Regions from separate parts of the Homo sapiens genome. Here all the other regions are reported to be linked to region 6. Evidence: microRNA targets listed by miRTarBase, many of them from high-throughput screens and not tested one by one. Region 6 holds a microRNA gene; each other region holds the end of a gene's coding sequence. Distances are from middle to middle.

Evidence for each region. The annotated mature microRNA hsa-miR-29a-3p reads UAGCACCAUCUGAAAUCGGUUA and lies in region 6 at 2,352-2,373, opposite strand. An mRNA with a match to its seed (bases 2 to 7 or 8) in the 3' UTR can be bound and repressed. Matches are read on the target gene's strand: a 7mer-m8 pairs with bases 2 to 8, a 7mer-A1 pairs with bases 2 to 7 and ends in A, and an 8mer does both.
Region 1: miRTarBase lists SAMTOR as a target of hsa-miR-29a-3p. Seed matches in the 3' UTR shown: 8mer at 3,509-3,516.
Region 2: miRTarBase lists SLC22A7 as a target of hsa-miR-29a-3p. Seed matches in the 3' UTR shown: 8mer at 1,915-1,922 and 8mer at 1,987-1,994.
Region 3: the mRNA of ABCE1 is a reported target of hsa-miR-29a-3p. Seed matches in the 3' UTR shown: 7mer-m8 at 3,209-3,215.
Region 4: miRTarBase lists ITIH5 as a target of hsa-miR-29a-3p. The part of its 3' UTR that is shown has no 7-base or 8-base seed match.
Region 5: the mRNA of TRIM68 is a reported target of hsa-miR-29a-3p. The part of its 3' UTR that is shown has no 7-base or 8-base seed match.

The regions. Positions count from the first base shown.
Region 1 is chr7:112,817,897-112,823,247 of GRCh38, reverse strand. It overlaps SAMTOR (S-adenosylmethionine sensor upstream of mTORC1), which reads left to right. Exons shown (of 5, transcript NM_152556.3): 5 at 875-4,101. The coding sequence ends at 1,504. Among named protein-coding and RNA genes, the nearest start is that of TMEM168, 30 kb to the right of the region's middle.
Region 2 is chr6:43,303,312-43,308,662 of GRCh38, forward strand. It overlaps SLC22A7 (solute carrier family 22 member 7), which reads left to right. Exons shown (of 11, transcript NM_153320.2): 10 at 727-933; 11 at 1,360-2,227. The coding sequence ends at 1,414. CRIP3 (cysteine rich protein 3) reads right to left here. Exons shown (of 8, transcript NM_206922.3): 2 at 5,004-5,098; 3 at 4,528-4,585; 4 at 4,301-4,432; 5 at 3,135-3,206; 6 at 2,908-3,002; 7 at 2,756-2,813; 8 at 2,161-2,564. The coding sequence ends at 2,503. Among named protein-coding and RNA genes, the nearest start is that of CRIP3, 2.8 kb to the right of the region's middle. RefSeq lists an enhancer at 4,175-5,032.
Region 3 is chr4:145,126,032-145,131,382 of GRCh38, reverse strand. ABCE1 (ATP binding cassette subfamily E member 1) reads right to left here. Exons shown (of 18, transcript NM_002940.3): 18 at 1,859-3,857. The coding sequence ends at 3,810. Among named protein-coding and RNA genes, the nearest start is that of ABCE1, 30 kb to the right of the region's middle. RefSeq lists an enhancer at 5,012-5,251.
Region 4 is chr10:7,560,446-7,563,445 of GRCh38, forward strand. It overlaps ITIH5 (inter-alpha-trypsin inhibitor heavy chain 5), which reads right to left. Exons shown (of 14, transcript NM_030569.7): 14 at 1-2,939. The coding sequence ends at 2,638. Among named protein-coding and RNA genes, the nearest start is that of LINC02642, 89 kb to the left of the region's middle.
Region 5 is chr11:4,596,431-4,601,781 of GRCh38, reverse strand. It overlaps TRIM68 (tripartite motif containing 68), which reads left to right. Exons shown (of 7, transcript NM_018073.8): 5 at 96-118; 6 at 655-755; 7 at 956-3,110. The coding sequence ends at 1,506. Among named protein-coding and RNA genes, the nearest start is that of OR52I1, 5.1 kb to the right of the region's middle.
Region 6 is chr7:130,874,397-130,879,747 of GRCh38, forward strand. MIR29A (microRNA 29a) reads right to left here and starts at 2,414; the gene lies at 2,351-2,414. It overlaps MIR29B1 (microRNA 29b-1), which reads right to left and starts at 3,143; the gene lies at 3,063-3,143. It also overlaps a transcript of LINC-PINT not described here. RefSeq lists an enhancer at 874-1,168 and a silencer at 964-1,163.

The DNA.
Region 1 (5,351 bases), 18 Mb from region 6:
AAGAAAAAGGGAAGAAGAAAAGCATCTTTTTTTCAGGTACTAGAACATTGCATATCACTTTTCCTAATAAACAGTCCAGATGACTATGTGGCCGGCTTGTATATACACTAACATGAGTGAGGGATTAAGGTATTAGGTCATATCTTTGTTAATAACTATTGGTATATGATAGAGTTATTTTTGTCTAATTTTAAAATTGCTTATTCTGATTCATTTCCATAGTTTTAAGATTTAGCAAATTATATAATGTTATTCATTCCTCTGTTGTATTGTTTCCCATGGTCATTTGTCTAACTAAATCTAGTTTGTTCCAAACTAGGGATTAACTTTTTAATAGAATAAAAGTAATGTTGAGGGTTACTTTTTAAATGGTTAAAGTTAACAGTTTCAAAGAACTAAAGTTTTGGAATCATTCTGCTTGTACAAATTTTATAATGCCTCTTTCATTATCCTCTTTATTTGATTCATCTTTATTTCATGGTATTTCTTGTTTAGCATTTTTATATTAGTTTGTTTTTGGTAACTGTAAATGTTAAAGTGAATGTAAATAGAAATGTCATTCCTGTAAACTCCTACCCAAATTAAAATTCATGTAAGTCCCAACCCAAAATACACAAATTATTTCCCATTTTAAATTGTTAGGCAAAAAACATATATTTAAATGATGATTAGCAGGTCTTTGGACTTAATTACTTTGAGATTTTTGTAAAAGTTGTGGTTGAATACATCTGTTCAAGTTTAATAATTTAAAAGGAAAAATGTATAATCAATGCTGGAATTACTATGATATGTGAAATGGTTTGCTGAAAAGTCTATGTACTAAAGTGGAAATAATCTTGAAGTTCTTAATATGCCTTGTTTTCTGTTTCTGCAGAGTGTCTATAAATGTGATTTCCTGAACTTACAGCTTCAGCAACCACTCCAGCTTGCACAGGATGCTATAGATGCTTTTTTGAAGCAGCTGAAAAACCCTATTGATTCTCTTCCTGGAGAGCTTTTCCATGTGGTTGTTTTCTCTCTCCTTCTTTCTTATTTTCCATCTCCTTACCAGCGATGGATTTGCTGCAAGAAAGCCCATGAACTGTTAGTGTTAAATGGTTTATTACTAATCATCACACCTGATTCCTCCCATCAGAACCGTCATGCTATGATGATGAAAAGCTGGAAGATTGCTATAGAGTCCCTGGGCTTTAAACGCTTCAAGTACTCAAAATTTTCACATATGCATCTGATGGCATTTAGGAAAATCTCTCTAAAAACCACAAGTGACTTGGTTAGTAGGAACTACCCAGGAATGTTATATATTCCTCAAGATTTCAACAGTATAGAAGATGAGGAATATTCTAACCCTTCCTGCTATGTTCGATCAGATATAGAAGATGAACAACTAGCATATGGTTTCACAGAACTCCCTGATGCGCCATATGACTCAGATTCTGGAGAAAGTCAAGCCAGCTCTATTCCTTTCTATGAGCTAGAAGACCCCATATTACTTTTAAGTTAATATAGAAGCAAAAAGCCCCTTTCAGTCCAGGCTCCTAAACTAATTGCTTACACCAATTGGAAATACTAACATGAACTCAGTACTGAAAACCTGGTTTGCATAAAAGAAATGCAGAGGTTTACAGAGTTTGCTATTTTTTTCTACTTCTCAATTTTAAAATTTATTCTTATATAGAAAGCTTAAAGTTTCATGCAGAGTGACTCATGTCATAGCAGAAACTACTGTTACTTTAGCATTTAGCACTATCATAGAAAGGTACCTTTTTCTCTTTAGTGCTATTGTGAAAACAAGCATAATTTGCTATATGTTTTCCTTTTCAACTTTTCAGTGTTGACTATAAACCATTGAATGGAAAACTTTAAGATGTAGAAAGCTGTAGATTGCACTTTGATGACTCACAAGTTAAATGTGATACAGAAAAATAGATCGGTTAGTTGTTTTGTGATGCACTTATCTTTTTCTTTTTTCTAACTAAAATTGTGATGTTACAGAAAGTCATTTTATGTTCCTTTTTTGTCTGATGATCCAATATTTACTGAACTTTTTGTAATTGGTGATAATTCTTTTTATTTCTTCCTTATATTAAAAGCTCATTTGACAGCATCAGACATTGGGGGAGAGATGTCCCCCAAAGTGTGTATTCTAATTTTATTAGCCCTATCCAATAAACACCATTGCCAAAGTAGTATTTTCATAACTTTCTTGTTGATTTGGGCCTTGGTGTGAAGTATATTTACCTGAGAGTTCACTTTTACTTTTCTTAAACTTAGGCTTCATTTACAAAATGTTTTATTTAAGCAAGGAACAATGTAATACTCAATAATGACCTAAAACACCTTTTTGAAAGGGTTTGCACTTGGAAGAGAGTTTATGTTCTGTTGAAACCAACTTTGATAGGGTCCTCACCTTTCCGTTAAGGAGGTGCCGCACTACAAGTTTCAAATTATATGGAAAAACCTAAAATTAACCCTCTGTTGGTGATCTCATAAAATGGTTTTGACCTTTTGGTATCTTAATTTCTATCTAAACTTTATCAGAAAATTTTCTTTGAATATATCAATTAGTTGGCTGTGGGAATTTTCCCTTTCCACATTAATAAATGCCTTTCTGTGTTTCTGAATCAGAAGCAAATGATTAGGGAAAAATATATGTCCAAACAAGACAAGATTAGTTTAAACAGTTAAGAACATTTAGTCCACATTGTCTTGTCAGCCAGCAATTGTCATGGAAGCTATCATTTTTAAGAGTGCCACTGTGTGGATTTTTTTTTCAAGTGGTTATTACATTAAAATTACCTCATACTGAGGTTTTTGCACTGAAATATCACAGTTTCAGATTTCATGGTTAATGTTGTGCGTATGTTTGTATGTTTTTAAAGGAAACTTGCATTTTCAATAGTTGATCCTAAATTTCATAAACTGCACTTCTTTACTCTGGTAAAGCTGATGTTTTTGTGCTTATTGTGAATTGCCGTAGTACCTTTGAATGTCAAACTTTATTTAGAAATATAAAACTTATCCTTTATGATATAAATGGTTGAGTGTATGTACCCAGTATTTCTAATTAAATTTCACATGCTAAATTAATGAAAGTAACAAGATTGTAATTTTTTAAAGTCAGTTGATTAAATGCAATAAATATTGGTTGCTCAAATATGCCACAAATAACTCGAAATTTTTCATTTACTTTCAACAGCATAAGATTCTTTAATATTTAGGATTGACTGTTCTTTCCAGTTAAGCACTGAAGGATTATGTCTTGTAGCTTCCCCAAGAGAAGGGGAAGGAAAAAAAAGCACTATGTTAAGGATAATACAGAACTCTTTTGAACTATTTTGGTAGTACCTTTTACCATACTGTTTGCTTTTTGATTTGGGTAAATATCTTAAGAGCAAAGAAAACAATACACCAAATGAAAATGCTTTGAAAGTAAATGAAAACAGCGCTTTTGAAAGGCTGGTATAGTATGACCCTGGAGTCAGCCTTTGTGTTACAGCGAAAATGTTGGTGCTATAAATTCTGATTGTTTACAGATGTTGATTCTGCTTATGCTCCAAAGTGTGCATGATGTATTTTACGTAGTACTCTGAGGAAGTCTCTTTATAAAACCTACTACCACTTAGTATAAATTTGTTTGAATTTATATCATTTGTTACTGTAAATTCAGCTTATTCCAATTAGGTTGGCACAGATTTAAACTGATACACATTCCACAAAAACCAATTCAGTGTATAAGTATTGAAGTATAAGCAGTCATTGCAGCTTGATGCCAGATCATGTATGTAATAACAAGTGGAAGTTAATAGGGCCTTCTAATACTGTATGGGTACTCCTAAGAATTATTTCATTTTGGATATAAAGAAGTTATGAGGCCTCCTGTCACATTCACAGCTGGTTCTCCAAAATAATTTGGTTGTTTCAAAAACAAATGGTAATCATTTGGTTGGATTCTTCAGTATCATGACTAGATCATGTGGTTTTACCATAGTTGCCAAGTGGTGGGAGGTAGCATACCTGAAAATGTACGTGTGTGTTTGTTGTATTTTTTCACATTTTGTGAACAAAGCACATTTATTAAAAATTTTAAATTTTCTAGTATTCTTTGTCTGTTACTTGTAAACCGAAAGTTCTGTGGTCTTTGATGTATCTCACTAAGTGATTTCAGCATTGGGAAGCAATTTAGAACTTGAGTGACTTGTACAATTTTCCCACTGGGTTTCATTTTTGTTAAATCCCTTAATGTCATAAATTTATTCACTGAGATCCAGAGAACTCAGGTGACTTCCCATTGTCATGTTTTGTCATGTTTATGGCAGAAGCAGGGCAACAGCATAAATTCTACTTTATTGTATGTCAACCATATCATATTCTTTTTTTTTTTTTAAGTAAGCTACATAATTTATCAGCTCTTTCAGGACAGCAGATGTCTTCCTCATGATATGAAAGGTTTTTTGTTGTTGTTGTTTATTAAACAAATGTTTGAATTCTGCCATGTGCTATATGCTGGGAAAGCAGCAAGGATTGGAGTGATCATTGTCCCCTGCTCTCATGGAGCTTATGACCTAAGAGTGAAGACAAGCATGCTACATGTACTTAGTATCTGTATCCAAGAATGATTACCTGCTGATGCTACAGTTTTGCCCCTGCTTAAAATCCTTAATTCACAGAAGTAGAACAGGAAATAAGAAAAGCTTTAAACACAAAACTAGCAAATTACACATTGTGGATAAGAGAGATGTATTGTTCATTCCTCTAGGAAAGTATAACCTAAATATAAATTCTGATGTAAAAGCAGAAAAAAAAATGGATTCAAGCTTTTTGTTCCGTTTTCCCACACTTTCTGAGCACTATGCAGCAATGCTATTCCTCTGCAAGAGTCCACACACTAGGTCAGCAGAAATGTAAATCAAAGATTTGGTTCCTTCTTGGTTTTGTAAATTGCTTGTTAAATGATAACAAAGGTAGAAAACAAATTCTTTGTTACAAAAAAAAAAAAAAAACCCATAATACAAACATTTACTACAAGGAATGTTTGTATTATAATAACTTTATTCTTAAAAAAAACTGAATTGCCATAACCATGATAGTATGATAATTCATGTTAAAGTCATATCCATGAGCTACTGTGAATGCAAAGCTCCCGAAGTATATTAGTGGTGGCCTATATATATACACACTACAAAACCCAGTGAACAAGCAGGCTACAATAGCTAACAATTTAAAGATCTCTAAATGCGTAAAAGGAGATACGCTGGTTTTTCTAAACCCTGTTTTTCTCTTGGCAGAGAAATGGAAATCTCAACAATTGGAAAGCCTTTTAAATGTACCTTAAACTTTGGTTTGTATGC
Region 2 (5,351 bases), not on the chromosome of region 6:
TAGCTGGGTGTGGTGGCGAATGCCTGTAATCCTAGCTATTTGGGAGGCTGAGGCAGGAGAATCGCTCGAACCTGGGAGATGGAGGTTGCAGTGAGCTGAGATCATGCCATTGCACTCCAGCCTGGGCGAGAAACTCTGTCTCAAATAAATACATAAATAAAAGAAAAAAATTAAATAATAATAATAATAAGAAGAAGAAAACAGCCCCAAGAAGCCCCATCCTGCCCACCCCCATCCCATTCACCCCTGGAAGGCAGAGATGCCCTTGAGGACTGTCCCAAGAGCAACCCCTTGAAAGGCCCGGGGTTGGGGGGGTCTTTCAGCTAGCTACTGAGAGGTGGGAAGAGGAAAATTCTAGGCATCTGGTCATGTTTAGAAAGAGGTTTGCCTCCTCGAACAACATGGCAGGGCCTGTACAAACTACTGACCTTCTTCCTTCCACATCACCCTTTCCTTATCTCCCAGTCTGGTGACTTGTCTTCTCCTTTAGTGATACCTAATTGGTACTCTGTCAGAATGGGGGCCCTGTCCTCTGGTGGGTGCTGGCTTGAGGTCTCCTGGCCTGAAGGTGGGTGGGAAGACCAACTGAAAGAAGTCCTAGTTTTCTTAGCTATATGGGGAGAAGGGAGTATCAGGGCCTGCCAGCCCTGGAGGGAAGCCCTGTGGGGCATGACTCCAGGTAGGTGTGAACACCATCTGCCTCCCTCATCCTCTTTCTCTGAACAGACAGACAGGGATGGGGCTGACTGCACTGGTGGGCCGGCTGGGGGGCTCTTTGGCCCCACTGGCGGCCTTGCTGGATGGAGTGTGGCTGTCACTGCCCAAGCTTACTTATGGGGGGATCGCCCTGCTGGCTGCCGGCACCGCCCTCCTGCTGCCAGAGACGAGGCAGGCACAGCTGCCAGAGACCATCCAGGACGTGGAGAGAAAGAGGTGTGTGCACAGGACTGTGTCTGTGTACGTGTGATAACATGCATATGGATGCAGGTGCTCAGATACCTGACACCTTAGGATTCAGACAGGAAACTATATCTGCACATGTGTACTTGGTGCATGTATGTGTGCGTGCACAGGTGAGTGTTTCAGGGTGCATGATTGGGGGCATGTAAACTGCAAGCATAAATGTGTACATGAGTGTATGAACACAAATACATAAGGTTGTTCAGGAAGATGTGTATGTGTGCACACTCAAGTATGCCTACACATCAGGGGTGTGTACAAGCATGTGTGTGAGTCACTTGTACAGGCGTTTGTATACCAGGAACTGGGGTGAGCCCTGGGACAGCCCTGATGGGGCAGGCTGGGGTGGTAGGCTCGGGGATTAAACCCCACCATTGCTCACAACTCCTTCCTCCCTAGTGCCCCAACCAGTCTTCAGGAGGAAGAGATGCCCATGAAGCAGGTCCAGAACTAAGTGGGAGTGGAGGCAGGCCCTCCACAGAAGCTCTGCAGCAGGGGCTGGGAGAGCAGAAGGGCAGGCCCTGCAACTCAGGCTGGGAGTATCGAACCCTCTGCCTAGGGCCGGAGTTGCTGCCAGTACCCGCTCCCTCTGCTCATCCATCCTTGATTATTTGGCTTCTAGGAACAGTTGACTTCCCAGAATGCAGTGGGCTGCTGGGCACCCCTCTCACGGTTGGGGAGGATTCTGTAAATAAAGGTGCCCCTTGGGTTGGGGCAGTGGTGACGAGCTGTGGGAAGAGCCCTGGATAGGAAGCCACTGAGTCTGCCCTGGGCTCTGATAAAACCTTCACCATTAACTTGCTGTGTGACCTTGGGCATGTGGCTTTCCCTCTCTGGGCCTCAGTCTGTTCATCTCCCAAATGGATAATGAAGCCTCTTGGGAGGCCCTACCATAGGATCTGTTGCCATGCTCAAATGAGTTACTGAATAAGGTGCTTCTGCTTCTTCTAGAGATGGTGCTAAAGAAAGGACTAGCATATGAGACTTCTGGTACCAATGGGGCTGGTGGGCATGCTGTCCACTGTGTGGTGCTAGGACTGCCAATGCCAGGCCCAAGGGACAAAAAGAACAGAGCTTTTTGTTCTCATGGCTGGCCCTGCTACCTCCGAGGCACCCTGCAGGGCAATGCATGTCATCCCAACCCCCACACTCCCCATCCTCCAACCCACTGGTCTCATGCCCAAAGAAGAGTTGAAGGCATGGGAGCCAACATTTTATTGAAGAAGCCACAGAGGCTGAAATTCAATAAACACAAGTTTTATGAGTACCTTGAAGCTCCAGAATGTGCTGGGGAAAGGGGTTGTGATGGCCAGGAGGAGGATACCCTTCAAAACGGGCTGTTCCCTAACCAGATAGAAATGGGAAAGGGAAAAAATTGGCAGAGAAAGTCTAGACTCTCTGGCCTACCATGGAGCCTAGGCCCAGGCCCCCAAGATCCCACCTTCCCCAACCCCCATGGGACTGGAGATTTTTGTAGCTTCCATTGGACCATGAGGGGCATGATGGGAGGCCTGAGTTAGGGTGACCTTTTTTGTGAGCGTCTCATTTGAATTTTATCTTCACTGGGTCATAGATGTAGCAGCCCACATCGCCAATGTTCACACCTGAGAGAGAGAGCCCTATCACCAAAGGCCCTGGGTCTGTGGTGCAGGGTTCAGGCCTAGAGGGAACTTGGTGGGGGGGCCAGGGTATGCTTAACCACAGGGGAAGTTGTCCACACATACCCACAGACCATGTACATGCCATACTTCAGGCATGTACATGCCATCCCAGTGTCTGGGATGGGGCTGCCCACCTTTGGGGCCAAACAGGTAGCCGTAGCAGGGGACGTGGCAGTAGGGGACTCCATCATGCTGAGACACAGAGAGAAAGAGAGCTGTCTCAGCCTGGTTCTCTTCCCATCTCCAGCCTCCTCCCAACATAACCACTCATTCCTGCCCTGCTCACCTCAGCATGACTCCCAGCAGTCAGGGTCTTGTGGCAACGCTGGCACCTCAGACACGGTCGGTGCCAATTTCTGCCTAATGACATCACCTTCTCAGCTGGTGGTGGAAAGAAGTGGTAATGCTTCCATTCTAGGGGTAGAGTAGGGAGACCTACCTGCCTTGGATCACCTCCCTCCCCCTTGCTGCCCACCCTGTATCCCCCTCCCCAAGTTTTCCACTGTTACTTACCAAAATAGACGGGCTCCCCACAGCCAGGGCACAGCGAGGTCTCCCCAGTGAATGTCTTCATATGGGGAGGGCCTTTAAAGGGGAAGAGGCCCTGGCTATGTCTGAGGTGGAGATGCCCACCAGCACCTGCCTGCATATGGTGCTGTCCTCTTTCAAAAGCCATGCTCATTCCAGAGTGCCCCACCCAGGCGCCCAAGAGTCTGCCTTCTACAGGCCCAGAGCTGAGCCCCCTCTGACTCCACCTCCTGCCCCATCCCTATGTGTATTAGGGACTATCTGCTTCCTTCTCCTGCTTCCTTTTCATCCTCCCAGGGGCTCACGTACCCACCATCCCAACCCTGTTAGCAACTCAATCCTCAGGAAACTTGAGCTGATATAGGAGCTGGCCACAGCACGGGTGTCAGGTGTTGGGGAGCACAGTGTCATTGCCTACTTCAGGGAATGGAGGGAAAGAACAGGGACCAGAGGAGAAAAGTTGAAGAATATGAGAGGCTGGCCTTATCCCAATGACTCCTCTCCTTTAGATCATTCCTTCCATGGCCCTGGCCTGGGACAGACCTAAGTTCCTGGCCAGCTTTGCCTCTGACTAGCTTTGTGGATGGACAGTCATTTGCCCTGTCTGGATCTCACTTTCCTCACCTGTAACACACGAGGAGAGGGGATAATGCCATCTGCCCAATTAACCTCTTTTTTTTTTTTTTTTTTTTTTTTTGAGATGGAGTCTCGCTCTGTTGCCCAGGCTGGAGTGCAATGGCATGACCTTGACTCACTGCAACCTCCGCCTCCTGGGTTCAAATGATTCTCCTGCCTCAGCCTCCCAAGTAGCTGGGATTACAGGCATGAGCCACCACACCTGGCTAATTTTTGTATTTTTAGTAGAGATGGGATTTCACCATGCTGGCCAGGCTGGTCTCGAACTCCTGACCTCATGATCCACCTGCCTCGGCCTCCCAACAATTTACCTCTTAACTCAGCAGCTCACATGAGGGAATAGAAAGAAAGAAAGAAAAAAAAAGCGGGGAGTAGATAGAGAAGACTTTGCCAAGAATGAAGTTGTGAGAATGTGAAGCAGAGGGCTGGATAGGAGACTGCCACCTGGCCCAACCTCCGCTCCAGCTTGGGGAAGGGTCGGGAGGAGGACTGGGAGGAGCTGAGCCCAGCCTTACTTTTCTTGCCTTGGGGGAGGCCAGTCCTTGGCCTGGGAGGGCTGAAGCTGCTGGGGCTGAGAGGAGTGGTGCAGCCAGGGCTGGGAGTGGGGGGATTGTACAAGTAGGAGCCTACACCACCAATGTTCACCCCTGAAGAGAGAATAGGGGAGGTCAGGCTTGAGCCCCCAGCTCCCAGCCACAAGGAGGGTTCTGCTGACCCATGGCCCCTTAAGGCTGGTACTTACCCCTGGGTCCAAAGAGAGCCCCATAGCATGGCTTGTGGCAGTATGGCCTCCCATTGTGCTGGGCACAAGCAGAGGGAAGTGGGTTACTCAAGGCCAGCGGGAGCCATGCCCCACAGGCCTTCACCCCAGACAGGCTGCCAGGTGTGTCTGTCCACTGGCTGAGTCTGGTGGGCCTGGGAGGGGTGGGGGATGGGCTGGCATGCCAGCATTTCCACTGTGGTCAAGGGAGGAAGAGCAAGAGCAGCTCAGAAGGTGACGCTGCTTCCCACTCACCCTGATCCCCAAAACCATGGGATCCACAGTCACGACCCAGGTTCCCAAATTCCTGGCTGGTGTGGGGTCCACCAGGTGGGCGGCCTTGGGGTTGGCTACTGAGGTTCCCTTTGGCAGGCCTCCAGTGCTGAAGTTGGGGGCTGGTGCCTGGGGGGTGGGAGGCAGTGATGTAAACAGGGCAGTGCTCCCTGGCCAGGTCTTACCTCTGCATGCCCGCCAGGGGACAGGATGCTGTGGCAGCGCTCACATTTCAGGCAGAAGCGGTGCCAGTTCTTGCCCAGGGAGCTCACCTTCTCAGCTGTGGAGGACAAAGTGGAACCGAGCTGCGAGGAGCCTGTCCAAGCATAGGGCCCCTCCTTTCCCTCTTCGGCCCTCTAGGGAATTAGGTTGGCCTGCCCTGCTTCCTGGAGATGAGTGTCTCCAGGAGGCCAGCTCCATCCCGCTCCGGTTTCACACTCCCCACAGAGCTCTCAGAGGAAGGGAGAAGACCCGAGTGGGAGCGGGTGGTGCGGAGACTACCAGCCGCTGCAGGTGAAAAGGGTGTCTGGGAC
Region 3 (5,351 bases), not on the chromosome of region 6:
AGGAAAAGACCTTTCTTGATGGCAAACAGGAAACCAGTTTGACTTAACCAGGTTTAAACAAATAGGGATTTATTTCTCAAGAAATGTGGAGAGAAGTGGCTGCTGGCAGTTGTGCAGCATTTTAATGTCAGGAGTAACATTCTTGTAGCTTGTTTTGCATTTCCCTTATATGTGTCACCTTCTGGGCATGAAATGCTTGCTCCATATATTACACCCTCAAGAAGCAGTACCAGATGATAATCTCCCTTTATTAGGAAAACGAGGTTTTCTTGAGGTATTTTCTAGAAAAACCTCAAGAGGTTTCAATTTACTGGCTAGAACTCTCTTGCAGTTAGGTCATATGGCTTAACTGCAAGAGACTAGGAAAGTATGGAAGAGGATTTTCTATGTCTTAGACCAATTATGACCAACCACGTGGGACTGGGCATTGGCAGAGGAGGTGGTAGTGGTGGTGAGTACAGGGCTGAGGATAAATGATATTTGCCACACAAAATCTCAGAATTTTCAGATACAGCCTCACTGAACATCTGCTCACAAACTGAAACACTACAAAGGAAACAATCTTCCAAGAGCAACAGTCAGCACAGTATACAGCCAAGTTTAGACCTGCATGTATTAAGTGGACAGAGTAGAAATGCTTAAAAAAATTAAGACAAAGCGGTGAAAAATTAAAGTAGAAGCTCCGGAACAACTACTGTCTGGATATTTCCGCTTCTCTAACTGGCCTTGCTTTGTCTCTTCAAGTCCTACTACTTTCAGCATGTAAAAAACTAACTTCAATCTGGAAGGCACAGAAAGCTCATCACAATCTGCCCATATCCATCATTTCCTTCCATTAATCTCTTAAATGCCCATGTTCCTTTCTGCCTCTCACCAGACATGTATTTTGCTTTAGGTAGATTATCTCACTTATCCTTTTAACAACTCAGTAAGATGGGTGCTGTTACTCTTTCCTGGGACCTAATTCCTTTATGTAGTCCTTTCTGACATTCCAACTCAGAATGATTACTTTCTCTTCTGAACCACTCACTGAGTGCTCACAGCAGACTAGGCACTGGGGTTAAGGACTTGACATACCTGTATCCAAGTATATTGATGAACATGAAGGAAATTATACAACACAGCAGTTTTGTAGTCTTCCTACTTTCTCTGTGGCATGCAGGTTCATTCCTTCAATACAGTAGGCCACTACATGCCAGACACCATGCTATATATACTGAGTGTTAAGACAGATACAAGACTGGACTTCAGAATGCTTGTAGTCTAAAATTAGGTTAACCTAAATTGCAAAAAACAGTTGTAGCATCAATACACTGCCTTTAAGACTACACTAAGTGAACACAGAAAATATGGATTATCCAGTATTATCTCAAATGTGGAGAGAAGTGGCTACAGATGCCACTATTATTATCCAATGACGATTTAAAAACTTCAATGGCTGGGCGCGGTGGCTCATGCCTGTAATCCCAGCACTTTGGGAGGCCAAGGCGGGTGGATTACCTGAGGTCCAGTTGAGACCAGCCTGGCCTACATGGTGAAACTCCGTCTCTACTAAAAATACAAAAATAGCTGGGTGTGGTGGTGGGTGCCTGTAATCCCAGCTACTCAGGAGGCTGAGGCAGAATTGCTTGAACCCAGGAGGCGGGTTGCAGTGAGTGAATATCACATCATTGCACTCCAGCCTGGGTGACAGAGCGAGACTCCATCTCAAAACAAACAAACAAAAAAAAACCCCCAAAATTTCAATGATTTATAATCACATGCAAAGTGTAAAATTCAAAGGGTATTATATATGTGTATATATAAATGTCTCCTTTTCCCGTCTATTCTTTGATCAAATTGTCCTTGTCAAAAGCAATCTGTTTCTTGAGTATTCCTTTATTTCAATATTTTGTATATTTTCACAAAAATGGTAGTATAATAAACTGTTCCAGTTTTTTGTTTTTTTAAGTATTTGAGACTTTTTCCAATTAGGACATATGAAGTAGTCTCATTCTTTTGCTAACATCTGCATTGATTTTATACTGATTTTATAAGTATTTTTCTTGTGTTAGCAATTGTAGGCCTTTCTGTTGCTATGTAAAATTTTAAGATACATATTTTAAAGATTTCATTTACATGAAAATACGTTTAATACATATTCTGTCATTAGCAGTAAGTAGAACTGTGCTCTTATATCACAAGTACTTTCTTTAAGACAATCCAGGATCAGTAAATAACAATAGCTTTTGCTTATTTTATTCAATATATTTGAAATGATCATTCACAAATTTAACCTATCCTTAAAAATAGGCATTACTTATTTTAGTATAATCCCATTTGTATACAAAACAAACCCTTTACATATTCACACTTAGGTAAGTGCACAGAAAAAAGCATGAAAGAATATACATTATTAAATTCAAACGCTGGTAACCTTTGGGAGGGTAATAAAGGGAGATCATTTTTTTATTCCATTCTGTATATTTGAATTTTTTACAACATGTATTTATGGGTTACTGAAATTATTTTTAAAAGGCATAATAGGGTCCAGTTAAACCATACTTTCTAGCCATTATTTGCATATTAATCAAGACTTCTGTTATTTCAAGTAGCTCTTAAAGTTTGTCAAACAGTTTCTAATTTCCTCCTCAATTTTGCTTGCCCCAGTCATTTATTTAGTAAACACTCTTCCTCACTCATAATTCCAGTTTAGTCAGAAGTACAACTTAAAGTGGCTCCAGGCTCCAGGTAATCCTGTTCAAAATTCAGGAACTCAAGAAATTTAGATGGGTTTTTGGAACTACAAAATGGTTTAGATAATGTGCTCTATATCCAAACTCACAAATGAATATATGTGGTACCAGGGGATACTTTGTATTGCCATCTGGGGACTTTTGCATTAATGTTGCCTTTAGGGAAGTGGTTTATAATCCTTGGCTGCCCAACAGAAAAATCTGTGGAACTTAAAAAAAATACATAGATGCTTAGGCACCATCTTTAAAGATTTCGAGTCTGTAGTTCTAAGGGAAGCAAATATTCTTTAGAAATGCTTTTTCCTAAATCTCAATCAGTGATTATATAAATATATGTGTACAAAAATGACATTACCTAGAGAATGACTGAATACAGAACCTCATGGAATGCAAAAACAAAAAAAGTTCAGAGTAAAGTTAGGGGTTTTTTGCGGGGAATGGAACTGAATTGGTTTTTGCTAAACATGTTTAAAAGCACCAAAAAAGATTAAAAACAATTTAAAAATACCTATTTTTCCAACAGTGGTGTTTTGCAGTAGATAATCTTCCTCGGAAACCATATACTGGTAATATAGTGCAAAGACTGAAAACAAACAATAAACATAATCCTGATGTTTATTTATCAAATGTCAATCAGTGGAATCTTTGACTGGCTTTTAAAATAAGGGCAGTTTCATTACACTGGCATACTTGGCAAACCAGGTAAGTACAGAAACCCTTTTCAAGATTTAAAAAATGGAGCAACACTGGTCAGCATTTGGTACCGTGAATATAATACACCTACTGAAAATCTTCCCATACATCATGAAAACTTGGAAGTAATTTGTATAGCTTGAAATGTCTTCATTTTAGAATATTATGCACAAAAGAGCCTCTTCAGGAACAGAAAAGTGGCATTTTCTGTGTTTCAACTACAATTTAGAACCCAACTGGCTTTTTATGTTATATTAAGTATATTATACTTCAAGTTCCAGAGTATGTGGGGCATAAAATCCTGATTCAAGTTTTATATGACAAAAAATTCTAGTAAATACTCCTTTTAATAAATGGCTTATCAATATTCTCAGAGTCAGTCTAATCATCCAAGAAAAAGTAGTTTCCACTCTTCTTTTGTTCTACATCCTAAAAAAGAAAACAGAAGCCACAAAAATCAGCAACACGATTCTACTATAGGTAAAAGTAGACTTTCACTCATGGTATTACTTAGCTGTGCTTAAAACAGTGCCTGTACAACCTGTTCTGCACATACCATCTGTTTCTGGATATTCCTGGGTCCACTGCTCAAAGGAAAGATAACTACCTCTGCCCCATCCCTAATGCTAGAATGACTCACTTGCACCAACTCAAGTAAAGTCCCTTTATATAAGATGCCTCACATATATAAAATTTTGCTATGTGTTATTATTTCTAGGAAAACTATTAAATTCCATTTTCATCAATGCAACTTTTATCTCCAGATTCAAAATGCAGCATACTGTCAGTTTGAGATCTGCCTACTACACAAAATATATATATATAAAGTTTTTTCCAATACTGGCCAGTAACAATCTCACCTACCTACTTGTTGAGCTGTTCTCTTATTAGGATTAAGGTATGACAATCTTAAGATGAGTAGGCATACAGAAATGATAACTCATGGTGACTGAACCATAAGTCTGTCTAAGAAAATGACAATACAAAGTGTCCTTAATGCTTCCAAAGAAATTCTTCTTTTCTACCCAATATGCTTTTCAAAACTGAGAAAACTCTTCAATTTTATGTGAGAACTTAACCATTTCTCTATCCTGGCCAAGAAGTAATATCAATCAGAAAAAAGGCATCCAGACATACTGTTAGGTGCTTAAGAATACAATGACGTGCAAGATAACTTTGCCTCTGGCATTCCAAGAGCTCATGGTTTAGCAGCAAAGCTAGGACTACAAATATGAAAATAAATGCTACAGCAGAAGTATGTATAACATACTTCTAAAGCTTTTAAGCATTAAGGATGATGGATACAGAGTGATAAAATGTAAACACTTTGAGGCACTGCAGATATTAAAAACAGAAATGATGGCCAGCATGGTGGCTCACGCCTGTAATCCCAGCACTTTGGGAGGCCAAGGCAGGTGGAACACTAGGTCAGGAGTTCAAGACTAGCACGGGCAAGATGGTGAAACCCCATCTCTATCAAAAAAATACAGAAAATTAGTCGGGTGTGGTGGTGGGCACCTGTAATCCCAGCTACTCGGGAGGCTGAGGCAGAGAATTGCTTGAACTCGGGAGGCAGAGGTTGTAGTGAGCCGAGATCACGCCACTGCACTCCAGCCTAGGTGAGAGAGTGAGACTCTGCCTCAAAAAAACAAACAACTAAAACCAAAACCAAAAAAACAACCCAGAAATGCTTTTAGAGTTCATTTACTTTCTGTTTCTGAGTGACTAAGATTTTTGCCTTTTAAGAAACAAATACTGTATTTCACAGAGGAAATCAACTGTAGGGTGCACAACTGTGAACTACAAAGACAAAAAACATTGTCAATTAAGTAGACACAATGTTTTCCTCATCACAGGAGCTTGTTTAGACTTTCAAAATATACTTTTTTTGCGGGGGTTGCGGGGGCGGGGGCAGGGACAGAG
Region 4 (3,000 bases), not on the chromosome of region 6:
CCTCCTCAGCACAGCTGTGGCACCGAGGGAATCTTGTGATGGTTTCTCCTCCCAACATCCCCTCCCTTTAGCCTGAAGTTGTAAAGCATTAAAAAGTCAAATGGAGGAAGATGGTGCACCTAGCATGGGGCCGTCGGGGGTCAGGGGAGGATAGAGAACAATGTTCCTTCATTTTGAAAGGCAGAGATGCTGACTTGTTCAAGGTCCCAGTTAGTCAGTGATCATGACACATTAACTATTGTGATAACAAGGAGATTTATCTCCTCTAATTATGACATATTTCTTCATCTCATTCAATTACTCATTTTGGAACAACCCTCGCCCTGGTTTATAAATGCTCAAGGAAAATAAATGATTGCCCAGATGGTGAAACAGGGTCAAAGCAAACAAAATGATTCTGGAGGTTCAGTGTAGCCCTGCATTAAGTATGTTGTATGACTTGGCAAAAACCACTCCACGGCACTCTCTGCCTCAGTTTCCCTATCTGGGAAGATTTTCTGGACAACAGAAAATACTATATTTTTTTTTTATCAAATGCAAAGGTCCTAACTATAAGCTTGGTATGGGGTTTCGGGCTTTCAGGTACTGACCCCATTTGAAAAAAAAAAAAAAGATCTACACGTAAAGAAGAGGAAGAAAAAAGGTGATATTTTTCTAAAGTAAAATATAATTTTTAAAAATGAAAGCTCAACTTTGTTACTTATGTTTTTCTGAGCAAGCAAGTTAGCTATGGATAGCTCATTGGAATGTTTTTCTCAGCTCTTAAAGTAGCAACACAGGCAGTAGGAACTGGTCTTTCCTAATAACGTCCTCATTTCTGCAGTGTCGAGACTTACACCTGGAACAACAGATCACTGCTCCAAGTGCTCCACAGGGGACAGGGCCACCTGGCTCCAGGGCTGTCTGTCCAGCTGGGATTTACATAATAGGAAGGCCCCGGGGAGCCTGGCCAGCTCCCTGGCTACCTCTAGCTGCCGCTCCCTTTCTCTGAGCTCTACAGTCTGAAAGCATCTGTCAGCAGCACTGGCTGGCAGCCTTTGCACCTCTGGCATGAATACAGGCAGCTGAGGTTGGGAAGACGGAAGGCAAATAAATAGCACAGCAGACAGGCCCTGGTGTGGTGGGTTCACGAAGCAGAGAGAGACGAGCCCAGATAGTCCCCCAGCGCTAACTTGTTCCCGAAGCCGCTGCGTCCGACAGGAACACGTGGATGTCATTTTACTGCCTGAATGTTTCCCCAGGGAAGGCAAACATGATAAAGAATTTTCTTAACTCAGCTTTTCCTCCCAGTGCTAAGCATGCCTTCTCATTTCACGCGGGGGCTGCTCTGGTGTCAAGCCCCGTGGAAGAAGCCTCTTGTGAGGCCAGCCCCAGAGCCTTGAACTCTGGCCTGCATCGAAGCATTCCACTTCCCCGACCACAGTCTTTCTTTCTCTGCTGTTTCGCCCAAGCGCTCCCGGTATCCGTCCGCTGAAGGGTGACGTTCATTGACTCTGGAAGTCCCCTCTCATCTTAACCTTTTCCTTAAGGCATCAGGTTTGTCCAAGTTTTGGAACCAAAGCCCCTGTCCACGAGCTGGTTTCCTGACTTTTTTTCTATCTGACATGAGGGAAGCTGGAAGTCCTAGATTTCCTAAGCACCGACACGCTTCCTGCTATAGGTGGGCTGGTGGACCTGCTCTGAGCCGGCTCTGCCTCCCGTCCTAGCACTGTGCACATGTAATTGATCACCTCCTGGATGACCACAAGGAAAAAAGGTCTGGGAACTATGACAAAGGCTGGAGAGCTCCAAGTAAAAGATGCATCATTCACTTGGCCAACTCTTCGTCACCAAGACATGCCAGTAAAATCAACCACATGGAGTTGTCCTGTGTATGAAAAGCCCTTAGCTTATTGGAACAAATTGGAGAATAGCCATTAGCAAAGTCAAGTGGTTTACAAAGCCCATTAGAAAGAGATCAGTATCTGAGCTGTAGATGTTTCTATTTTCAATCAAATTTCTTTTTAATGAAAACTAATTTTTAAGGGCAAGATACCACAGCAGAAGAAAAACGTCTTGCAAGAAAAGACTTCATGGTTTACAACGATCAAATGTATGGGCTATTTGCCTGATTGGTGGCCTGGACTCAGCAAGAGATTCCTTTGCAGCAGAGGTTGGCCACACATCTGGGGGCTGCAACACCACTGAAAAGACAGCTTTCTAAGCATTAGTGTAAGGCAAAAAGCAGAGTGCCTAAACTTGTCCATTTCCACCAAGAAAAAAAGTTTCATAGCAACCTTCCTTCACCAGAAAGGCTTACTTTATGATATGCTAACAGAACAGAAAAGCAGGTTGGGACAAGATACAGACTTTGTTGCATTTAGCTATGACCCTTCTCTCCCCTCTGTGGATGTGGGCAGGGTGGGGAGAGGCAGGAAGAGGCAGTAGAGGGAAATGACATTTGCACTCAGGCTTCCCGCCCCTACCCACCCCTACCCTTCGCCCAGACAGACGTCGGATCTATGCTGCACCAGGGGTGGGTCATGGAGTCCAGCTAATTGCCAGGAGCTGAGGCGTGTACAAGCCATGAAAAGAGCTGCCCCACGGCCTCCCCACATCACTGTCCTTCATGCACTTGCATCTTTAAGGCTGCCAGCTTCAGAGCTCCCTGGACATTCCCCGGCCAAGTGTCATCCCTGTGTCAAATGGATGGGATGCCAGGTAATCCTTGTACTCCCCGTCAATCAGTTTGGCGGCATTGTTCCTGGCAAACCAGCAGTCTATCTGCTCTTCCCCGTTGTAAATCTTCCTTTGCTTCCAGACCACTGGGACTTGGTGGCCTTTCACTGTTAGGACGGCCTCAGGCCCCTCTCCCACCTGAAGGAGCAGAGGGTGAGTGAGGTTCTGGCTGGGCCCTGCAGGGTCTTCTGTGAGTCTGGCATCCTGATTCAGGAACTGACCTGGGAGGACAAGGAAAAGCATCGGGTCTCAGTCAAATGCAGAAACCTCGTGCTGAACTCC
Region 5 (5,351 bases), not on the chromosome of region 6:
TCCCTTCCCCTAGAGAAACTCCCTGCCAGTTCGATGTCTGTTCCCTCTGAGGAATAGCACTTACTCAGATGCTGCATTTTTTTTTCTCCTTCCAGGATATTCAGGAAGTGTTAAACAGGTATGTTCTCACCCTTGGAGCCTCTAAGCAGCCCTGTAGGGGATAGTGAGGCCTAACTAGAGCCAGAAGTAGGGACGGAGCACAGACTCGGTGCACACAGAAAAGCAGGTGCTGGTCCACAGTCTCGTCCCACTTACATGGTAATGGCTAAGGAATCTTTGTTGATCTTTCCTTTTTCTTCTTTGTACTTGATCAAATGTATATCAAGTGAAGCTGTAAAATATGTGGTTTCAAGTAGATTGCTCAAAGAGGATAAAAGACTGCCCATGACTCCTTCATGTCCGACAGAAAATGTGTGCACTTCTTCCTCTCCCAGAATCAAATATACATCCAACCCTTCCCATAGCATGGGCATGCAGGTGTTCTCACCTCTGCACACAAACAGCTTGAGGCTCAGCCAAATAACCGTAACCATCATGTCTCTGCTTTGCTGGGGTTCACTATGTCCCTGGCCAAGCCCCTCTTCCCTGTACTAAGATAAGGCCCATGTGACAAAGCCGGGACTCCTGGCCCTGAGGTTCACCCTCCTCTACCAGGAGCAAATCTTGGAGCTTGCAGCAGCCAGAACCAATCTCCCTGGAGTTGAAGACAGATTGCCGTGTGCTGGGGCTAAGAGAGATCCTGAAGACTTATGCAGGTAATGGATCCTGGGGGAGACTGTAGTGGACAGTGGGAGGGACCCCTCCCAGAGATAGAAAATGGTTCAGTGCCCTCTGGGTGCTCCATCCAGCCTCACCCCTTCATCATTGAGAAATCTGTGGCTGAATTTATCAGAGGGCTCTCACCCATGTCCCCTGGCCCTATATCACTGTTACCAACCAGGACCTTTTCTTCTAGCTGATGTGCGCTTGGATCCAGATACTGCTTACTCCCGTCTCATCGTGTCTGAGGACAGAAAACGTGTGCACTATGGAGACACCAACCAGAAACTGCCAGACAATCCTGAGAGATTTTACCGCTATAATATCGTCCTGGGAAGCCAGTGCATCTCCTCAGGCCGGCACTACTGGGAGGTGGAGGTGGGAGACAGGTCTGAGTGGGGCCTGGGAGTATGTAAGCAAAATGTAGACCGGAAGGAGGTGGTCTACTTATCCCCCCACTATGGATTCTGGGTGATAAGGCTGAGGAAGGGAAATGAGTACCGAGCAGGCACCGATGAGTACCCAATCCTGTCCTTGCCGGTCCCTCCTCGCCGGGTGGGAATCTTCGTGGATTATGAGGCCCATGACATTTCTTTCTACAATGTGACTGACTGTGGCTCCCACATCTTCACTTTCCCCCGCTATCCCTTCCCTGGGCGCCTCCTGCCCTATTTTAGTCCTTGCTACAGCATTGGAACCAACAACACTGCTCCTCTGGCCATCTGCTCCCTGGATGGGGAGGACTAAGAAAGCTACCACCCTAACCAGAGAGGCTTGGAATTGGGCCTGGCCCCCATGGGGCTTGGAGGACCGAGCCACTGACAGGTATCCCCTGAAACTGAGCTGAGCCCAGTATCCAAGGATTCCTCTGTCTGATCCTTTGGTCTTTGCTACCAGGCTGAAGTCTGTCATGAAACCACTTATTTTAAAAAGCAGAGGCCCAGTCAAATGAGCATTGCATCCCATGAGGGAAGCACGACAGGGCTGATGGTGAGGATCAGAGCAGTTCTAAGGTGACTCGTTGGGGTAAGGATCAGGACTTTGTCCATGTAGTAGCCAACCACCCTCTTCCCTGATTCCCGTCCGGTGTCACAGTTCAGTCAGTGAGGATGATGAAGTAGATACAGTCTTCAGGACACCATTAGATGGGCTTTCCCAATAGGCCAAAAAAATGCTGCGCATACCCAGAGCTGGTTGTTGTGCTGAGGCCAGTCAGAGGATGCTTCCCCTGAGGTTTGCTATAACTAAGCAACCTTTATGTGACTCTCACCTTCTGACCTCCTGGCAAGAGAAATTCAGTGCAGCAGGGGGACACAGACCTGCCCAAGCCACCCCACTGCCGTTCCCTCTCTGAGCACAAGCTGGGCAAATCACTGTCCCTTGGACTCCAGGAGACCAGTGTCCTAGTCTTGCCTTTTTTCTCTAAGTGGCAGGATCAGAAAACCTGCGAGCTTTAGTTTGTATTTTCACTTTATGAATGAGGAAACTGAAATGGCCTTAAGGGAGCAAGTTATTTCTTTTTTTTTGACACGGAGTCTCACTCTGTTGCCCAGGCTGGAGTGCAGTGGCACGATCTCGGCTCACTGCAGGCTCTGCCTCCTGGGTTCACGCCATTCTCCTGCCTCAGCTTCCCGAGTAGCTGGGACTACAGGCGCCCACCACGACGCCTGGCTCATTTTTTTGTATTTTTAGTAGAGACGGAGTTTCACCATGTTAGCTAGGATGGTCTCGATCTCCTGACCTCATGATCCGCCCTCCTCAGCCTCCCACAGTGCTGGGATTAGAGGCATGAGCCACTGCGCCCGGCCCCTGGAGCAAGTTATTTCTTACAAAGCTGCTGAAGGTAAGATTATCAAAATTATAAAGCATTTTTCACACTCAAGTGAAACAAGGTTGACAAACTCACTTCGCAGGTCACATGCCTATACATCACTTATTATATTTGGGTCTGAAACTTCTCACATGTTTGGGAGGTTTTATGTGTCCTCATTGGGAAAATGGGTGTAATTCAGCATAAAACCTCATATGATTGTCCTGCCTCATGGAGCTGTTGTATAGATCCCAGATCCATCCCATGATTTGTTCCTGTCTGAGGCATAGAGGCAGGCAAGCCGTGGATTTTGCACATGGTGACTTTCCCACTGTGCCATGATACAGTCTGCATCTTATAGCAGTGCCTTTGTCTCAGGGCCTCTGCTGGCAGTCTAGACCTTTTGGGCAGAAAGGAGCTTCAAATGGCTGTGATAAGGAATATTAAAAATTGTGTTTCTACTTTAATTGTATTGGCTGTTCATGTATGTAGGAGTTAAAATAGGCCAAACTGGAGAAATAAACGCATTCTGTCCACCATGCTTCCAGACTGCTTCTTGAGAATCAGTAGTAGAAGGGGAGAAGTTTCCATCAGCTGCCTGGAGGGGAATGAGCTAGTGAGGCACAGACCCTGGTGCTGGCCAAGGGTTGAGCCTGCCTCAATTAGAGGAGCATCTTTGTCAGGGGATTCCCTGGGGGTAACTGAGAAGTAGGTCCCTAGGAAGGACTTCAGTTCTGTCTGTGGACAATTGGGACAAAAGGGTTAAGGGAAAATCAATGTTGTTCTTTGGCTATTAAGACAAATCTTGGAAGGTTCCTAGAAACGGAGGATTGTTAGCTGATAAATTCATTCGAACTTAGAATGAAGGAAGGAATGAAATGGCCTCATTTGTAATGTACTCTTTTTGGTTGGTTTGATTGTTTTTTACATTTATAAGCCTGTTTGGGTACTCTGATTACTTGTTAGAAGACTCGTAAGGTTAAACAATCCACATTATTACAGATTGTCTGATTTTTACGACCAGACAAGAAGATTGAAGCTCTAAGTGCCTGAAAACCCTTTTCTACAGAGTAGTTGTTTACACTTCCCTTCTGAGAACCATATGAAAACAAGGACCTTATTTGTCTGTTCACCACTGTACCCCTAGTCTAGTACTCTGTGTGTGTGTGTGTGTATTAAATATTTAAGTGAGGGAACTTTCATTCACATGACTAGAATCAAAACAAAAATAACCTGCTTTTATCTAAAAGGGGCAGTAAAAACTAGAGGATACCTAATTATACTTCTGTTCAAATATGAATTTAATGGATAATTTCTTTTACTGTACCTTTCATATGTGGTCTAGTAGGGCAGAAGGTAGGTGGCCATGTGGAGGTGGAGTGCCTGCACTGCTCCCTGCAATGCCTAGGGTGGCATCCCCAGTTTGGTGCAAGCCTTCACTGCAAGGCAGGGACAAGCTTTGCCTACTCTTGTTTTGCAGAGAAACTGACGGATGCAATACCTGAATGTTAAGGGAGAAGGCTGCAAAGAGGGTAAAATGCCTGGGTACTGCAAAGAAAGAAAAAAGGTAGACATAGGGGCAAAGCCTTGGGTTCAAAACTACCTACAGATAGGCAGTCTTCATTTTTTTCAATCAGGATTGGTTGTAATCTCTTAAAATCCAAACATTAAGGATCTACTGTGCATCCCAGGCACTAGTTAAGAGAGCACACGTGGCTTCATGTGATGGACCAGGGGCCATATCTGAATGTATGGTGAGAAGCACAGGTTTTTCCATTCGGGGTAGCCATGGAAAGGAATCAGCACACTTTGGGAAGTATGTGGTTCAGTAAATACTTGAGTACTAGCAGTAGGTTCCATCTACTTTTAGAATAATCCAATGAGAATGAAACGCAAACCTGGTAAGGCAAGCTTCCTGATGGAAATGCTGGGAAGAAATTAGTGTTTGGGGTGCAGGCTGGACTATAACTTTGTTGCTTTACATCAGATTCTTTAATGCATCTAATATGCTTTCATTTAATGGACCTAGCCAATTTTTCATGTTACTTATGGAGAAAGAATAATGTGACATTTCAAAATGAAAATCTTATCAAATGTGTTTAACAATCTTATAATCTTATAATCTTGTTTTTTTATGTTATAACCTCATAATCTTGTTTTGTTTTTACGTTAGGGGGTTGTGAGGGAAAAAAGTTTCACTTTCCTGCCCTTTGGGACCTCTGTGCATCATTATCAGATTTTTAAGAGGCTGATTTCTACTCTGCTGGTATTCAAAAATTGAATACATTCTTGGCAGGTAAACAAGTCTAATATTAGTAGAAAGTATAGATGTTAAGTTACTAAGGAGCTTGTCCATTTGAAAGAGTTGTCATATGAGTACTGGGCAGTATAGGACTACTCCCTTAAAATTATGGAATTAAAAATGTATTGGGTATATTTTTAAGTTCATACAATATGTCAGAGTTTGTGTTATCTGCTTTCCATGTTTTATTTAATTTTTAATACTCTGAATTAATGTTGTTTTTCAGTAGACAGGAAGTGTTAAGACTCAGATATAGTAGCTTGCTGTTAACAGTTTCCTCTCGCACTTTAATTTTAACACTAGTAGGAAATTATCTTTTTATTAAGATTTTCAAATGTACATATCTCTTATATATAAGATCTTTTTCTTTTAACGTATACTGATTACTCAGTTCAAGATTTTCTGAAGGGGAAAAACAAAACCAAAAATCATGGAAGCATCCAGTGACCTGGAGAAGAGTGATTACATTTCAACTTCCTT
Region 6 (5,351 bases):
GGTTAAACAATTTTTATTTTTATTTTTTAAAGAGATGGGATCTTGGTCTGTCGTCCAGGCTGGAGTGCAGTGATGCAATCATGGCTCATTGCAGCCTCAACCTCTTGGGCTCAAGCAACCTCCTGCCCCAGCCTCCTGAGTAGCTGGGATTACAGGCACCAGCCACCGTGCCCAGCTCACGTATGTATTTTACAAAGATTAACTGGTGGCTATAACAAAGCTAGACTAATGGCGAGGGGTGGGCCCAGAAAGCTGTCTAGGAAGAGCAGAGAAAGGGATGGATCCTAAAGAGAGAATTGAGAGAGAACAGCAACAAGTTGTGCTGAGTATGGATGTGGGTAAGGGAGAGGGAAGAGGTCACAGACCTCTGGTGTTCGCAGCTTTCACCATGGGGCAGAGCAGGGAGAGCTGGCTTTGGGGAGAAGGCAATGTGGATGGCTTTGGTATATGCCTAGTGTTCCATTATTGGAATGCTAAGCATGTGGGAGTTGTCTCCTACTGCTCAAGGTCATTGCCAAGGTCTGATGGCAAAAATTCAAAAAATTGCAACCTCAAGCATAAATGGATTAAATTGAGACAAGTTTAGAAGAGCAGGCTGAACTATTATACTTAGGAGCTACTAAAAATATAAAAAGCAAGATGTCTCAAAAAATATCCCAGGCCAGACCTCTGGTTTGAGGGAAATCAACACATAGGGATGTATTTGGAACCAGGGGAGTAAATAAGATTACTTAGGGAAAACAGCGAATAGGTAAGAAAGCAAAAGACAAGAGTTTTGGGAAAATAATAACCATGGGATAGAAAAAGATGTGGTGGAATGATCCTGATTCTCGTTGGATTTGTGTGGTAGACAGAATGTTTTGGCTACAAATTGCATGTGTTAGCCCCGAGGAGAAAAGGCCTTTTCCAGACAAGTGACAGGCAGGAGGGAAAAGGAGGGAGGCAGTGTGAGAGGGCGGGAAAGCTTAAGCAGGGTAGATAGAATATTAACTCTTGATTGTGAGGCCAGTGGCTTTTCCAGGCCAGAAAGAAAACAGAAGGACAAGGCCCAAATTCCACCAGGTGCCCCTGCAGTTCTCCAGGACGCCACATGGGGACAGCAGGTGGCCGGTCTGTGCAGTACCTGTGTTGGGAGCTGCACACAGGGGCCCCTGGAGGAGGAGCGGCCGAGATGGCTCATTCTTGAGCCTTTTATTTTATTTTATTATTTTTATATTTTATTATTATACTTTAAGTTCTAGCATACATGTGCTTATACCCAAAGGATTATAAATCATGCTGCTATAAAGAGCCTTTTATTTTTGCCTCTTAGTGGACCTAAAAACTCAGTATTGTTTTTGGTCTAATGACTTCACTTCTAGTGAGGTTGTGTTAGTCCGTTTTGCGCTGCTATAAAGACATACCCGAGACTGGGTAATTTATATAGTAAAGAGGTTTATTTGGCTTACAGTTTTGCAGCCGTACAAGCATGGCACTGGTACCTGCTCGGCTCCTGATGAGGCCTCAGGATGTTTTATACATGGTGGAAGGCGGAGAGGGAGCAGACATGTCACATGGCGAGAGAGGGAGCAAGAAAGAAAGAGCAAGAGAGAGGAAGGAGGTGCCAGCTTTTTTAAACAACCGGCTCCCTCTAACTGAGCAGGAACTCGTTAAGTGAGGACATCACCAAGCCATTCACAAGGGATCCGCCCCATCACTCAACCACCCCCACCAGGCCCCACCCCCAATACTGGGGATCACACTTCAACATGAGATTGGAGGGGACAAACATCCAAACCATATCAAAGGTATACTCTAGGATCCTAGTTCAAGTAGCACCTGCTTTTGTTGCTTTGCCTTCTAAACTGAACTGACACATATTAGCACAGTTCTGTCTCAGCCATAGAAACCCAGTTTCTCTGGACCATTTTTCCTTATGTAAGAAAATGACCTGTTTAACCATGGAGGGAACTCCTCAGCCAGCTAAGAGAGGAGAGTTCAGAGATAGCTGGTGCAGCTTCTCATCAACAACAGAATTGACTCCCTCGCTGCTCCTTTCCCATCATCTAAGCCAGTCATCGATTTTCCCCAGGAGTGTTTCTAGGTATCCGTCACCAAAACAAAACCCCCACCAAGTCTATGGAATTTCTATAAAGTATAACCATTCATGATATGCTAATAGTGAACCATTTGTTAGTATTATACCACATGCAATTCAGGTCAGTGAAATTCAACTTAGAAACTGGAAGAAGAAAAATCACCTTTGCATTATTGCTTTGCATTTGTTTTCTTAGTTCTTGTCCATGGCCCCAACGGTCACCAATACATTTCCTCTCAGCAGTCAGCATCATGGTGCTCTTCCCCAATCATTATAACCGATTTCAGATGGTGCTAGAAAATTATATTGACTCTGAACACCAAAAGAAATCAGTCATCCTCTAAGGGGTCACAGAAGGTCGTGAGGGTTGGGAGGGCCCAAATCTTACTAAATCCAGCATACATTGGGCTCTTTAACCCAGGCACAATGGAATGAGTCTGTACTATCTATTAAGTGCTATAGGTTTATTCCACAAAGAAGTATAAAATTCCAACAATGCGATATCCTGTACAATTACATTCATCCCTTGGTATCCTTGAGGGATTGGTTCCAGAAAGCCCCTTGGATACCAAAATCCACAGATGCTCAAGTCTCTGATAGAAAATGGTGTAGTATTTGCATACAACCTACACACATCCTCCCGTATACTTTAAATCGTCTCTAGATTACTTAGAATACTTAATGCAATGCAAATGTATGCAAATAATTGTTATGCAGTATTGTTAGAGAATAATGACAAGAAGAAAGTCTGTTCATGTTCAATACAGACACAACTTATTTTTGGAAAACTTTCGATCACAGTTGGATCCGCCAGTGCAGAGACCTGACTGCCATTTGTGATATATGCCACCACTGTTGGCAGGGGTGAGGAAGGGGTCAGCTACATGTGAGGCAGGTTCTCACAGCCATCCTGCTGTTGCTTTCAAATACTTCAGAGCTGTCCCATTCACTTCTTTTGCTGTTGGTAGTGCAGCGCAGCTGGTCTCCCCCAAGAACACTGATTTCAAATGGTGCTAGACAATCACTATTTAAATCTAAACCACCATATGAAACCAGCTTCCTGAAGAAGCTTTATGATCTATTTTTTTCTTCATAATGCTCTCTTACAATAAACCCAAGACAACCTAGAAAGGAAAAGTTGAAACCTAGCTGTGAGTTACTCAGTGGTCTAAACAGAGCTTTGGCAAATTTCATATATTCATAAACTGATGTCACTGAATTTGTTATTGATGGGAGAGCATGCCTGGGACTCCCTTATTCTTAAGTTAAGTTGCCCAGACAAAGGTTCAGCTTCATCATTTAGAGGCAAGGGCACATGTCAGCCCCGTCACTCTTGGGTGGGAAGACAAGGAAAATCCTTTGCTTGGGTAAAGGCAGGAGAAGTCAGAGGCATCCTGTGATCAAGTACCCAGGCAGGCGGAGGACGACTAGCAGTGGTGCTGGAGAACCGTCCGTCGGACATGCAAATAGGACAAAGCAAGCAAGTGCTCCATAGAAGTTGAAGAAAAACGCTTTCCTAAACCTATTATTTTCACTTGGAGATAACTTGGATCCAAAGGATTACTGAGATTTTGGGGTCTAGGGAAGAAAATAGACTAGCTCAGAGGCCAAGTAAGTCACATAATGGCACTAATGAGATGCTAATGTCGCTTCCGGAATGAATTCCTTAGACTGCATCTATGAGTTAGGGGTTTTTGTGAGCTTTACTTAAGACTCTCCTTCCCTCTACTCCAAAGGTAAGGCTTTGTACTCTGAGTTCTCCTTGGCAAATTATTTTTTGCAGCAGTTCTTTTTCGCCGTCATGGTATAGTTCTTGGTATCATCTTATTAGGTGGCCTGTTGTCGTCCCTTTTTGTGTTCTAGGCATCCAAAAAGATACTTCATGTACCCAGGCCACCTAATTAAAGGGGTGTGCACTGTTTTTATAAACTGTTATAAAAAATTTTATACATTAAATTGGAATGACAATACAATGAATTCCTAAATCCATACTATCTAAATTCAATAACTATTCCTTTTTATCATGTTTTGCTTTAATTATATGTAATATAGATACATATTTTTTGCTGCATTGTTTGAAAGTAAATTGATAACCACCCATACATACACTGCTCCTAACTACTTTGAGGTCGTTCTATAAAATGAAGACACTCTTCTACATAACCACAAAATCTTACCATACCTAAGAAAACAAACAATTCCTTGGTACCCACAAATATCCAGCCTACATCCAACTTCTCCCACTTTCTCCAAACAAAAGGTTTTTTATAGGTTTTTCAAACCCAGATCGCATCAAGGTTGATTCACTAAGACTCTTTGGTCTCTTTTAGCCTCAAAACACTACCCAACCTTTTCTTTGGCTTGTTTTATCATGACATACCACCTTGTGAAAACCAGGCTCCAATCCTGGCTGTACCATTCACTTAGTCTGTTCCCTTGGCTTGTATTTAAGAACTGAACTTTAGTTTCTCCGTCTGACTTTCCTCATATATCATCCTCATTTTACAATCTCACTATGTGTATTAGAAGAACATCCAATTACCACGTGCCTGTGGTTGATGATTCCAAGTGGGTTCAGTGCTAATCAGTCAGGAGGTGCACTGCAGGCTGTTTACCTTGGGTCTGATTAGCATAACATTCTTGTTCCTCATGGGCTTGGCCAGTTATCTTTTCATAAGGAGATCCCAGCACAAACTCATCCTTTATCATCATGGAGAAGCATCCACAGCACATACCTATTGCTGCTAGGCTGGTTTTTAAAAAAAATCTCTGTGAATAAGGGAATAGAACACCAGGGCTATGGAGATGCGTGGCAATCATTTCATCAAAGATGTAAACAGCTTGTTGACTGCAGTGAAAGGCACATACTTTGTGAAGTGACAGGCAGTGACACATTTCAAGTGGATAGTAAATTTAAGCACCAAAACTGGGAAAAGTGCCAGGACAGAAGAATCACTGCAACTCTCAAATAATGGTTTCACTAATTCTGTGATTCCTTTAGGGACCCCCTGCATCCTTCTGTATATGCTACTCTAATTCGCAGTATCAGTGACTGAAGTACAAAAGAAGCAGCCAGATTATTCTCATCAGTTACAAAACTCTAAAGTCTGCTTATTTTTGATAAATAACTAGTCACAGTGTTTGCCTACTGCCTAGAAGTTTTTTCAAATGATTGACACTTCAGTTATGGGGAAAATTTTTCCTGAAGAATGAATTTCTTTTACTTATGTCTGATAAGATCATATATATCTCATACACCAAATACATCACACAC